Linked DNA regions of Homo sapiens: region 2 is linked to region 1. Evidence: fine-mapped expression QTL. A gene starts in region 1. The other region holds a variant in brackets. All regions are shown on one strand. Distances are from middle to middle. Region 1 holds the start of DTWD1 (DTW motif tRNA-uridine aminocarboxypropyltransferase 1). Region 2 has its middle 39 kb from the start of DTWD1.

What was found.
Region 2: its variant is fine-mapped to the expression of DTWD1 in whole blood (INTERVAL, PIP 0.98).

The regions. Positions count from the first base shown.
Region 1 is chr15:49,617,818-49,623,210 of GRCh38, reverse strand. It overlaps DTWD1 (DTW motif tRNA-uridine aminocarboxypropyltransferase 1), which reads right to left and starts at 2,163. Exons shown (of 5, transcript NM_001144955.2): 1 at 2,089-2,163. FAM227B (family with sequence similarity 227 member B) reads left to right here and starts at 2,393. Exons shown (of 16, transcript NM_152647.3): 1 at 2,393-2,511. RefSeq lists an enhancer at 1,932-2,051.
Region 2 is chr15:49,657,789-49,663,181 of GRCh38, reverse strand. No RefSeq gene overlaps it. Among named protein-coding and RNA genes, the nearest start is that of DTWD1, 39 kb to the right of the region's middle. The variant T/C (reference allele first, on the strand shown) is at 2,439.

The DNA of each region.
Region 1 (5,393 bases):
TAGCTCAACCTGACTTCATTTCCCTGGGTAATGGAGTAGCTATTTAGTGGGAATGCATGTACCACTCAAAGGCCCAGGCATAGTGGGACTGAAAAATGTAGTTCCTGTGGATGTCATGAAAGTTACTGTGGTTGCCTGACATTTAACAGAAAACTACTGGTGAGTTTTTGGAGTTATCCTAGGGCACTGAAAGTGCATTCCTCCTAGAGATACCTCAGAAATATCACTTTGCAGTTCATGGACCTGCTATCCACATAACTAAATGGATATTAGTGAAGCTTTATATAAATAACCTTCCTCTAGAAAAATCAACCACCACAAATACCTGTAAGACAGTAAAAGAGAAATGTTTATGGCTCCACCTCTTAGTTCACCTATATACTCTCACTTATGGCTGAGGTGGCCACGTAGAAGAGGCCAGCAATTGTAAATCATGGGCAGCTCCCTCCAGTGGTCTCTGAAACTACATGATCAGGGCATCTGTCCTAACCGAGCCAACAGCCTGCCTCGACTGTGAGAAAATCATTGCAAATGATTTTATTGCAAATGGGGTTATTTAAAATTTTTAAAACATACTTGTTAACATCAAATATGTGCAAGGAAGTACAATTTGAGTCATGGGGGCTAAAAAGACTTAGAAAACATAAAGACTGTTCCTAAGGAACTAACAATTTTAACACCTTGATGGTGCGTCCATCATTCTGGAACTTAAGGCTAAAAATACATTAATTTTTTATTCCTCCTTCTACCCAATTTCCACCCCAAATTAATTATACTCACCAAGTTGCATCTACCTTGTATATAATCCTCTATCTTCACTCTCAAAGTCAGGATTCTAATTCAGTTCCTTATTAACTCATAGATGGGCCACAGCAATGTCTTAAACCTCTTTGAGTACTTATTATTAGTTCCACATATTTGACATGGAAAAATGCATTTATTGTGGAGGTACTTTAGTGAATCTATCCCCTCCAGCATTCAACTCTGTAAGAGCAGATTCCTTCCCTGATCTCACCTATTCCTGATTCTTATGCAACAGCAGGAACTCAACAAACACTTGTTAACTAAATCAAAACCATTCTGCAAAACACATCCAGTAAGCATCTCACTACTGAAGTATCTGACAAACTACCTTTATGGGCCGTCTGCAGCCTAGCACAAGTGGCAGGCTGGCAATTTTTTTTTCTCCAAAATAATAACAAAAAGCTTCTACCTCTTCCATTATTGTAAGCTGACTCACCTCCCAATGGAACACTATACAGACTCCCCTGTCCTATATTGTGGACCAATTCAGTATTAGAAAAAAACCACTTCCAATTTTCTTTAGAGTGTTTTTAAGAACTTGGTCACATAGGACCTACAGGTCCAACATTCATTTTTCATAATCCAAGGTAGTAGTACCCTTTTTCATATAGGATCAATGGCCTCTCCCACACCACCCGCCATATGGTAACAAACTGTCTTGCCTTCGTTTTCATGGTGCACTGGGTTAGTCCTTACATGCTGCGATCTACAGTATTGATTTTACCATCCAACTTTGTGGGCCTGGCGACTGAAAATGTTAATATACTTCCTTATTTGTCCTACATTCCCAATAAATAATTTAGACGTAAGAAACAGGCTCTTTTGCTTATTATGTAACCACAACCTCAATATTTTAAATACACTGCATGGCATCACTAATTCTACGTCTGTACTACGCTTCCCCTTCCGTGATAACCAAACCCCCACAAACCACTCCAAATACTAAAAATAAAATAAAATAAAGTATGGGGTTCCTAGGGAACTGACTTTGCCAGGACATACTTTTCGTTGGGGCGGAATGCACCGAAAATCATTGGTAGGAAAAATAATTTTTTTTTTGAGGAAAAATTTGGAAACCTTTTTCCCAAAGGGCCCGCAAGATCCTAAAAAAAGCAAGAGACCGCGCAGAAACCGAGGATCCCCCTCACAGGCGACACCCAGCGCGACCTCCGCTAGGGTCCTGACAAAGAATGTCCACTTCCCGCGGCCGCACCTCTGGGGCCAGACCACTGGTCTCCAGAGAGGCGCGGGGACCTCCACCAGGGATCGGAGTGGTACTCAGACCTGCACACCCGCGAGTCCTCGAACAGCTCCACACGTCTCCAGCTCCGCCCGAGCCCGAGCCACGCGCCGGGCCGTGATCGCGCACGGACCAGACGGAGCGCTTTCCGGGAGACACCAGAGGGAGGAGCCAGGCAGTTACTAGCGTCGTTGCTAAGGCAGGGGCCGCGCACACCGCACACCGCGCGGCTTAAGCAACAGGCTGGGACGACAGCGGGGGGGGGGTTAGACGGGAAGTTCCGCCTCAGCCTCTCAATCAGCGGCGGTGTCGCACTTCTCCCGAGAGGCTCCGGCGAGGGGCAGGGCCGCGTTCGTCCGGGACCCGCCTCAAGCCTCGCAGCCTTTCACCCAGTTTCCTCCCGATTCTTGCTGGGACAACAAAATTGGGAAGCGGTTCTCGAAACATACTGTCAAGGCGTAGTTGCAGTGAGTTGTGAAGAAATGTTGATCCCAGAGAAAAGTTTGCATTTTGCCCACCTCAAAGATATTTTGATTGTGAGAACTTGGTTACATTAGTCTTTCGTGGCTATATCAATATCATTATTTCGTGTGCTGTGTGGTAATGAAAGCTATTAGAAAAATCATTTGTATCTTAATGATTTAGTTTGCATAAAAACACGCATATAGAGTTAAGAGTACTTTGTGTTTTTCCACTTTGAAGTATAATATGTGGATAAGTTATTAGAACATTTGTCCGTGCCTCTCCCCAAACAATGCGCAAACGGAAGTGCACTCTAACAACTAAGATTTTAAAACACAATGGTCAAATGTTGAGCAATGTTTTATTGACTACTCTGAATTTATCAAGTGGTAGATAAAGGACATTACAATGCCCTAGAAGTGCTCACGATATCAAGTAAAGCATGTTAAATTCAAGTACAGAAAATGCAATATTCTTACTACTGAGATAAAAAATGGAATTTAATAAATTACAGGAATTTCAAGAAAGCTGAGAATGGAGTGGTCAATAAAGGCTTCTTTTTCGGACTTGGGTAAGGCCTTGAAGAATGATTTAGGTTTAGGACAGTGTTTTTCAACTGGAAAGGGGATTGTGTGGGACCCATTAGTGGAGGTCTTGACCCATTTGTAAGCAAGGAAATCTCTTTAAACTTAAAAAAAAGAAACAATATAGATTGGAAATATCAGCGCATGTAAGTAAATTTAGTGTTAGTTAGTAAAGTACTGCTTTATGGAGCTTTTAATTGTATATATGCGTGTATGTGTGCACTAGGGCTTGTTTGTAAAATGTATTTCTTACTGTATTTCAAACCTTAAAAAGTTTGAAAGCCAGTGATTTAGGGAGAAAGGTGAATTTTCTGGGTAGGGAAAGTAGAATAGCAAAGTCTATAAGCCAAGAAGAATTCACAACCATTTTCCTTTTTAGTTTAACTCTAAATTTTATCAAAGTAGTTAAATTGCACAGATTAAAAAGCAAATAATACTACTTGTTAGATTGAGCATTGGGTTGCTATCGTATGTAATAAATTACTCCAAAATATGGTGGCTTAAAACAACCATTTTATTATGTTCACAGGTGGTGTTGTCAATAGGGCATAGTCATCAGCTTTTCTTTGGTAACTCAATTAGAAAGACTAGAGTGGGCATGCTAGCAGAGCTTCTGTAACTATATGGCCGGGGTTTCCTCACAGTATGGCAGCAAGGTAGTCAGACTTCTTAGCTTAAACTCAGAGCTCCAAAGGGAGTGTTGCAATGAACAAGGCAAAAATTGCCTGACCTTTTCTGACCTTGCCTCAAAAAGTAACGCGGTGCTACTTCCCCCACTTTCTTTTGCTTACAAATGTGTCAAAGTCCTGTTCCATTTTAGGAAAGGAGACATAGATCCCTCTTCTCAAAGGATTGGCAAAGATTTCTTGTCCATGTTTTAAAACCAGCATAGTGAATTTACTTCTGTAACAGAAAACCCCAAAATATCGGTGGTTTAATACACTTTTTTTTTTCCTCACAAAAGATCCATTGTGGCTATTTCTAGGCAGACGAAATGTTAAATTCAAGGCCAGATGTTTTTATTTTTAATGGTTCTGCTGCCTTCTAGGACTAGCTTGTTTGACAAGAAAGAAAGTATGGCAAATTACCCAAGGTTAACTCTAAAAATGACATGTATCAATTTGGCCACATTCTGTTGGCCAGAATTTAGTCCCAAGGCCCCCACTTTAACTGCCGGGGATCCTGAGAAATGTAGAGAAACACACACATATTGGTGAGCACTAACAGTTTGCCACATTCTAGGTTAAAGAAAACCCTGTAGTACCCAACCCTTCTACTCTATTCTCAATTCTTCTCACCAAAGGAAAATTCAAGTCTTTTAAATATTTCATCTGTTACCCCCATGTCTAAATATACTTACATTGCAGTTTCTTGATTTTCCAATTTCAGACATTACCCACTGACTTTCTCCTGTGGAAGGCAGTGATAAAGGTCTTTTGTAACAACACCACCTCCAAGTGTGTGAACATTCCCTCTCTACCTCATACACTCTTCTTGTCCCTTCACCTGTCAATAGTGATATCATAGGCTTTGGCTAAATCAACATTTAGTGTTATCACTACTGTCTAGGTAAATGTCATTCAACCCCAAGGCACATAGTATACTAAGATCGCATTAACTTTTAATACAACTTTTTACTTTCCTTTCTCTTAACTGCCATTTTTAATGTATTATTTATCTGTTCTCAAACACTGGCAAACTGCTAAAGCATCACAGTGAAATACATCAGTTAATCCAGTAGATTTTTTTTCCTTACAGATACTCTTCCTACAGCGTTACAGCCTTTAGTTTATTTAGGATTGCTGGTTTCTCCAACATAATACTGCTCTCCTGTGTGTTAGATCCCTTGTTTCCTTTTTCTTTGTTTAATCCCTTTTTAAAAATGAACTACATTCTCTAATACCTTCTTGGAAAAAGGTAAATAGGAGTGTAGTAGATAGAATAATGGCCCCCAAAGATGTCTATATCCTTACCTCCAGAACCTGTTGATATTTTATATGGCAAAAGGAACTGCATATGTGATTAAGGAGATGGGCTAAATTACCCTGGATTGTCTGGGTGGCTGGACATAATCAAAGAGTTCTTATGAGAGGAAGACAAGATGTCAAGAGAGGGGAGAAGACTCTACACTGCTGGCTTTGAAGATAGAGGGAGGAGCTCTGAGCAAAGGATAGCAGGTGACTGCTAGAAGCCCCTTTTCTCACAAAAAGATCTTCTGGGAGAAAAAATTATGTGTATTAAGCCATTGATATTTTGTGTTTTTTTTGTTACACAAGTAAATTTACTATGCTGGGCGACAAGAG
Region 2 (5,393 bases), 40 kb before region 1:
AGCCACAGTGTGACAGGTTAAGGTGAAAAAGACTTTGAGGAGAACAAGAAGACTGCCAAAGGATCCCCAGATGGGAAGATCTAGATGAATCTGGAAGAAGAAATGATTTGCACTTCCAACATGGGATGTCATCCTTAGGGAGTACACATGAAATTCAGGAGAGGGGGACATAAGAAATTTGAAAAAAAAAATAAAATGACTATTTAAAACTTTTAAGTAAAAGTTTCATTTACTTATAAAATTTAAATGTAACAGAAGGAGAGTGTGGGATACTTATATTTGTGAACAGAGAATGTGGGTGTTTTTTTTTTCTTTAAGACTGGAAAATACTTCTCTAATCTACCCCTCTAACTCATGGAATAGAAGGAAGCAGGGAGGAGTGTGAGTGAAAAGTGAAGAAAAGCTCAAATTTGATATCTAATGCAGTGGTTTAAGATATTTTTTTCCTCATTATGCCTCAGTGTTTCCCTCTATAGTAAAAGGGAAGTAGCCCTTTGACTCCAAAGTTATTAACTTTTAAAAGAGATAGAAGGACATGTCTTTCAAAATTGGGTAGACTAGAAAACATATTTAAAGCCTGTTTCCAATGAGAAATTAAATAAAATATTTAATGTCTGTTTGCAAAGAACAAGAAAACTTGTACATTTCCTAAGTAGGTTTTGACTTTTCCTCTTTAAGCAAAAAATAGAATTTACTTGCAGCATAAGGGTAAACTTAGGATCAAGAATTATGTTTGCTGCATAATACCTAGCAGATTTTTAGACCTTTTAGGAGCTTTTCATGTTTCGTTGTGGCATAATGGAAACAATATCAACTGTACAGTCAGAAAAATCTGAGTTCAAAATCCGACTTAAACTTCTACTGCTGGCCAAGAGTAATCCCACTACAACCTATCTTTCCCATTGATTCTAGAACACTTGACTAACACTATCAATCAACCTGATCTAACTGTAAAGCAGACTCCAAACTTTTTTTTTCAATTGAAAATGGATATTCATGAATATAGATAATATCCTGGACTATAATACAAATCCTAAAAAATTAAAAATAATTGAAATCATACAAAGTGTATTCTCTAATCAAATAGGTATTAAATTAGGAATCAATAACAAAAATTCTGGAAAATCCCCAAATACCTGGAAGTTAAGTGGCACACTTCTAAATAACCCATGGGTCAAAGGGGAAGTTTCAAATGAAATTGGAAATTATTTTGAACCGATTGAAAATGAAGATACAACATGTCAAAATTTGTGGGATGCAGCTACAGCTATGTCCTTCTCAGCAGTGCTTAGAAGGAAATTTATAGTATTAAATGTTTATATTGAAAAAGCAGAAAAACCTCAAATCAATAATCTAAGTTTCAAACTTAAAACAGTAGGAAAAAAAGCTAATTAAACCCAAATCAATCAAAAGAGGAAAAGATAAATAGAATAAATCAATACAACTGACAAAAAGTAAAGGAAACAAAAGGGAACAAAAAACTTGTTCTTTGAAATGATCAATAAAATTGATAAATCTCTACTTAGATTTATCAAGAAAAAATAGAAAACTATAGACCTTACAGGCATTAAAGGTAGAAGAAGGGAATCCTACAATCACTGCTTATAGATTCCACAGGTTAGATGAACTGAACCAATTCTTGAAAGAGACAAACTGACAAACTCACTCAAGAAAAAAGTTAACCTAAATGTTTCTATATCTGTTTCAAAAAATGAATTTTAAGTATAAAGTTTCCAAAAATAAAAAAGTCCAGGCTCTGATGGTTTCCCTGATTAATTCTACCAAACATTTAGGAAAGAAAGAATAAAAATCTGTAAATACAAAAATTGCAAGTCTTCAAGAAAACTGGAGATAACACTTCCCAACTCATTTTAGGAGGGTAGCAGTACCCTGATACTACAACTACAGAAACACTGCACAAGAAAACTATGCCCCAATATACCTCACAAACAGAAATGCAAAAATTCTCAACAAAGTATTAGCAAATCAAATGCAAAAACATAAAAATGATAATAAATAACCAAGCAAAGTCTATCCCAGGAATGCAAGATTGGTCCCAAATTAGAAAATACAATTAGAGAAATGTATTTTACCATATAAACATACTAAAGAAGAAAAACCACATATATGCAGAAAAAATGATAAAGTTCAAATTCCATTCATTGTATATTTTTCAACAGACTCTCAGCAAACTAGGAACATAAGGGAACTTTCTTAATCCCATAATGGGTAGCATGTGCACACATGCACATGAACATGCACATACAACTTAAACCTAGCATACTTAATGGTGAAGGTTTAAATTCCCTCCCTCCATGATTGAGAACAAGGAAAGGATGTCTGTTCTTATACATCTATCCAATATTCAAGTCCTGGCCAATTCAATTGATCAAGAAAAAGAAATAAAAAGCATACTTACTGAAAAGGAAGAAATAAAA[T/C]GTTGTCTATTCAGGGATGATGTGATTGTCTATACAGAAAATCCCAAGGAATCTAGCAAAATGTTCACAGAACTAATAAGTGAGTTTAGCAAATTCACAGGATACAAGGTCACTTTATAAAATAAATCACATTTTATAAAGAGATGGTCCCCAGCTTACAATAGTTTGACTTGTAATTTTTCTACTTTACAATAGTGCAAAAGTGATAGCATTCAGTAGGAACTGTACTTTGAATTTTGATCTTTTTCCAGGCTAGATATGCTGTAAGATGCTCACTCATGATGCTAGACAGTGGCAGCAAGCCGCAGCTCCCAGTCAGCCAGGAGATCAGGGGGGTAAACGTCCTATACTCTATAGTGTATTGTGTTGCTAGATGATTTTGTCCAACTATAGGCTAATGTAAGTGTTCTGAGCACGTTTAAGGTAGGCTAGACTAAGCTATGATGTTTGGTAGGTTATGTGTATTATGCACACTTTTGACTTAAGATTCTTTCAATTTACAGTGTGTTCATCAGGAATTAACTATAGTTAAGTGGAGGAGCATATGTACTAGCAATGAACATTTGGAAATAAAAAAAATTTTAAAACAGTCACAAGCAAGATAGATATATCTGGCATGTAGTGGATGCTCAATAAATATTTATTGAATGAGTAAGTATGCAATTGGACTTTCAAGTGTATTCTATTTTTGTTTTTCAATACACTTACATTTCAAGATATGTTCTTCTAGGTATTATTAACATGGTCTGATATCCTTGACAGTATAACAATTATTCATGGACAATAGCAGTGTAGAATAAGCTGTATAGCTAGAAGCAGCCAAACAGGCTTAAAACATTATATTGAATAATCTACCTTAATTTTGATTGAATTCCCTTTACCTGTGGTATTGAAATTGGTATTATATCCTTCTTGTAAGATAAACTTCTACGAAAATGTTAGCTTCATGTACCTCTGTGATATGTTACATGCTCTGTACACTTGGGTTAATTAACATTTATCATTAAAAATTAAAAATTATATCTGCATAATCTTAGTGACCTTAATTACACTGAACTTATTCACCTTTCGATGCAAATGTAGAGGGACAAATCTCAAGACTAACATTTCTGAAAATGGCAGTCTCCAAATTAGTAACCAGGTCCCCCCAAATTAGTATTATACACCTATTTCCAACCCTAATTTTAGAATGAAAATCACAGACAAGTGGTATCTAGTCAGACAAGAGGTGTCTAGTCAGACAAGATACCTCTTTGGTGAAGTCAATACATACAGGTTATTTGTGATTAATTTTAGTTTGTTGCATTATTACATTCCTAAACTGTAGTTTTTTAATAGCTGGAGCAATGTTCTATGTTAGTGGGTGAAGTGGGAAAGTTTATTTGAGACACCAAAAGGGAAACATAGCCTTCATTTTAAAGCATTCAGTAATGAAACTATTTTTATCTAACTATTCAAACAGACAAACGGGCTCTAAATATATAAATTTGTTGTCTTTGCTTTGCTTTACTCATTTCTTTCTCCCCTCCCCTCCCCTCTTCTTTCCTTTTCTTTTCTTTTTAGACAGAGTCTCGCTCTGTTGCCTAGGCTGGAGTGCAGTGGTGTGATCTTGGCTCACTGAAACCTCCACCTCCCAAGTTCAAGCGATTCTCATGCCTCAGACTGCTGAGTAGCTGGGATTACAGTCATGCACCACCATGCCTGGCTAATTTTTGTATTTTTAGTAGAGGGTTTCTCTATGTTGGCCAGGCTGGTCTCGAACTCCTGGCGTCAAGTGATCTGCCCACTTTGGCCTCCCACAGTGCTGGAATTACAGGTGTGAACCACTGTGCCTAACCCTAAATATATAAATTTTTTAAAAGTAAGCTAAGAGCTTTAAAAAACTTCTAAATATATGACTGGCTCATCTCTTGACATAGAAAGAACCATTACTTTATGTATTAAAATTGTAGTCAAAGCAAAAATTTTTATAACTACCAAAATACTTATTTGGCCAATAACCTAAAATCAGAAGACTGATAGGAATACAAAAGATTTACTGAAAAAAAAAGATTGATTGCACTATATTCCTAGATCAAAAGAAAATGGAGTTTGTCATTATTCTAGCATGGACTGGAAAATTAGACTACAAATATGGATGCAGCAGAAGTGTTTCTAAGATGGAAGTTTAAATCAATAAACATTTACATCAAAAAGAAGCTAGATCTGAAACAAACAACCTAAAGTTACACCTCAAGTACTAGAGAAATAAGAACAAAGCCCAAGGTTAGCGGAAAGAAGGAAATAATAAAAATCAGAGCAGAAATAAATGAAATATAGATTATAAAAACAATAAAGATGATCAATGAAACCAAAAGTTGGTTTTTATAAAGATAAACAAAATGGACATATCTTTAGCTCAACTAAGAAAAAAAGAGAGAAGACTCAAATAAGAAAAATCAGAAACAAAAGAAGAGACATTACAACTGATCCTACAGAAACAAAGTATCATACAAGAAGGCTACCGTGAACAATTATATGCCAATGATTTGAATTACCTACAAGAAATGGATAAATTCCTGGACACACACAACCTTCCAAGACTGAATCATGAAGAAATAGAAAATCCAAACAGACCAGTAACACATTAGGAGATTGAATCAATAATAAAAAGTCACCCATCAGGGAAAAGCCGAGGACCTGTTGGCTTCACTGCTGAATTCTACCAAATATTAAAAGAAGAACTAATACGAGTCCTTCTCAAACTCCTCAAAAATTTGAAGAACAGTGAATACTTCCAAAGCCAGACAAGAGCACTACAAGAAAAAAGAAACTACAGGCTGATATCCCTGATGAACACAGATGCAAAAATCCTCAACGAAATACTAGCAAACCAAATTCAACTAAAAGGGTCATTCACCATGACCAAGTGGGATTTATCTGAGGGATACAAGGATCATTCAACAAATGCAAATC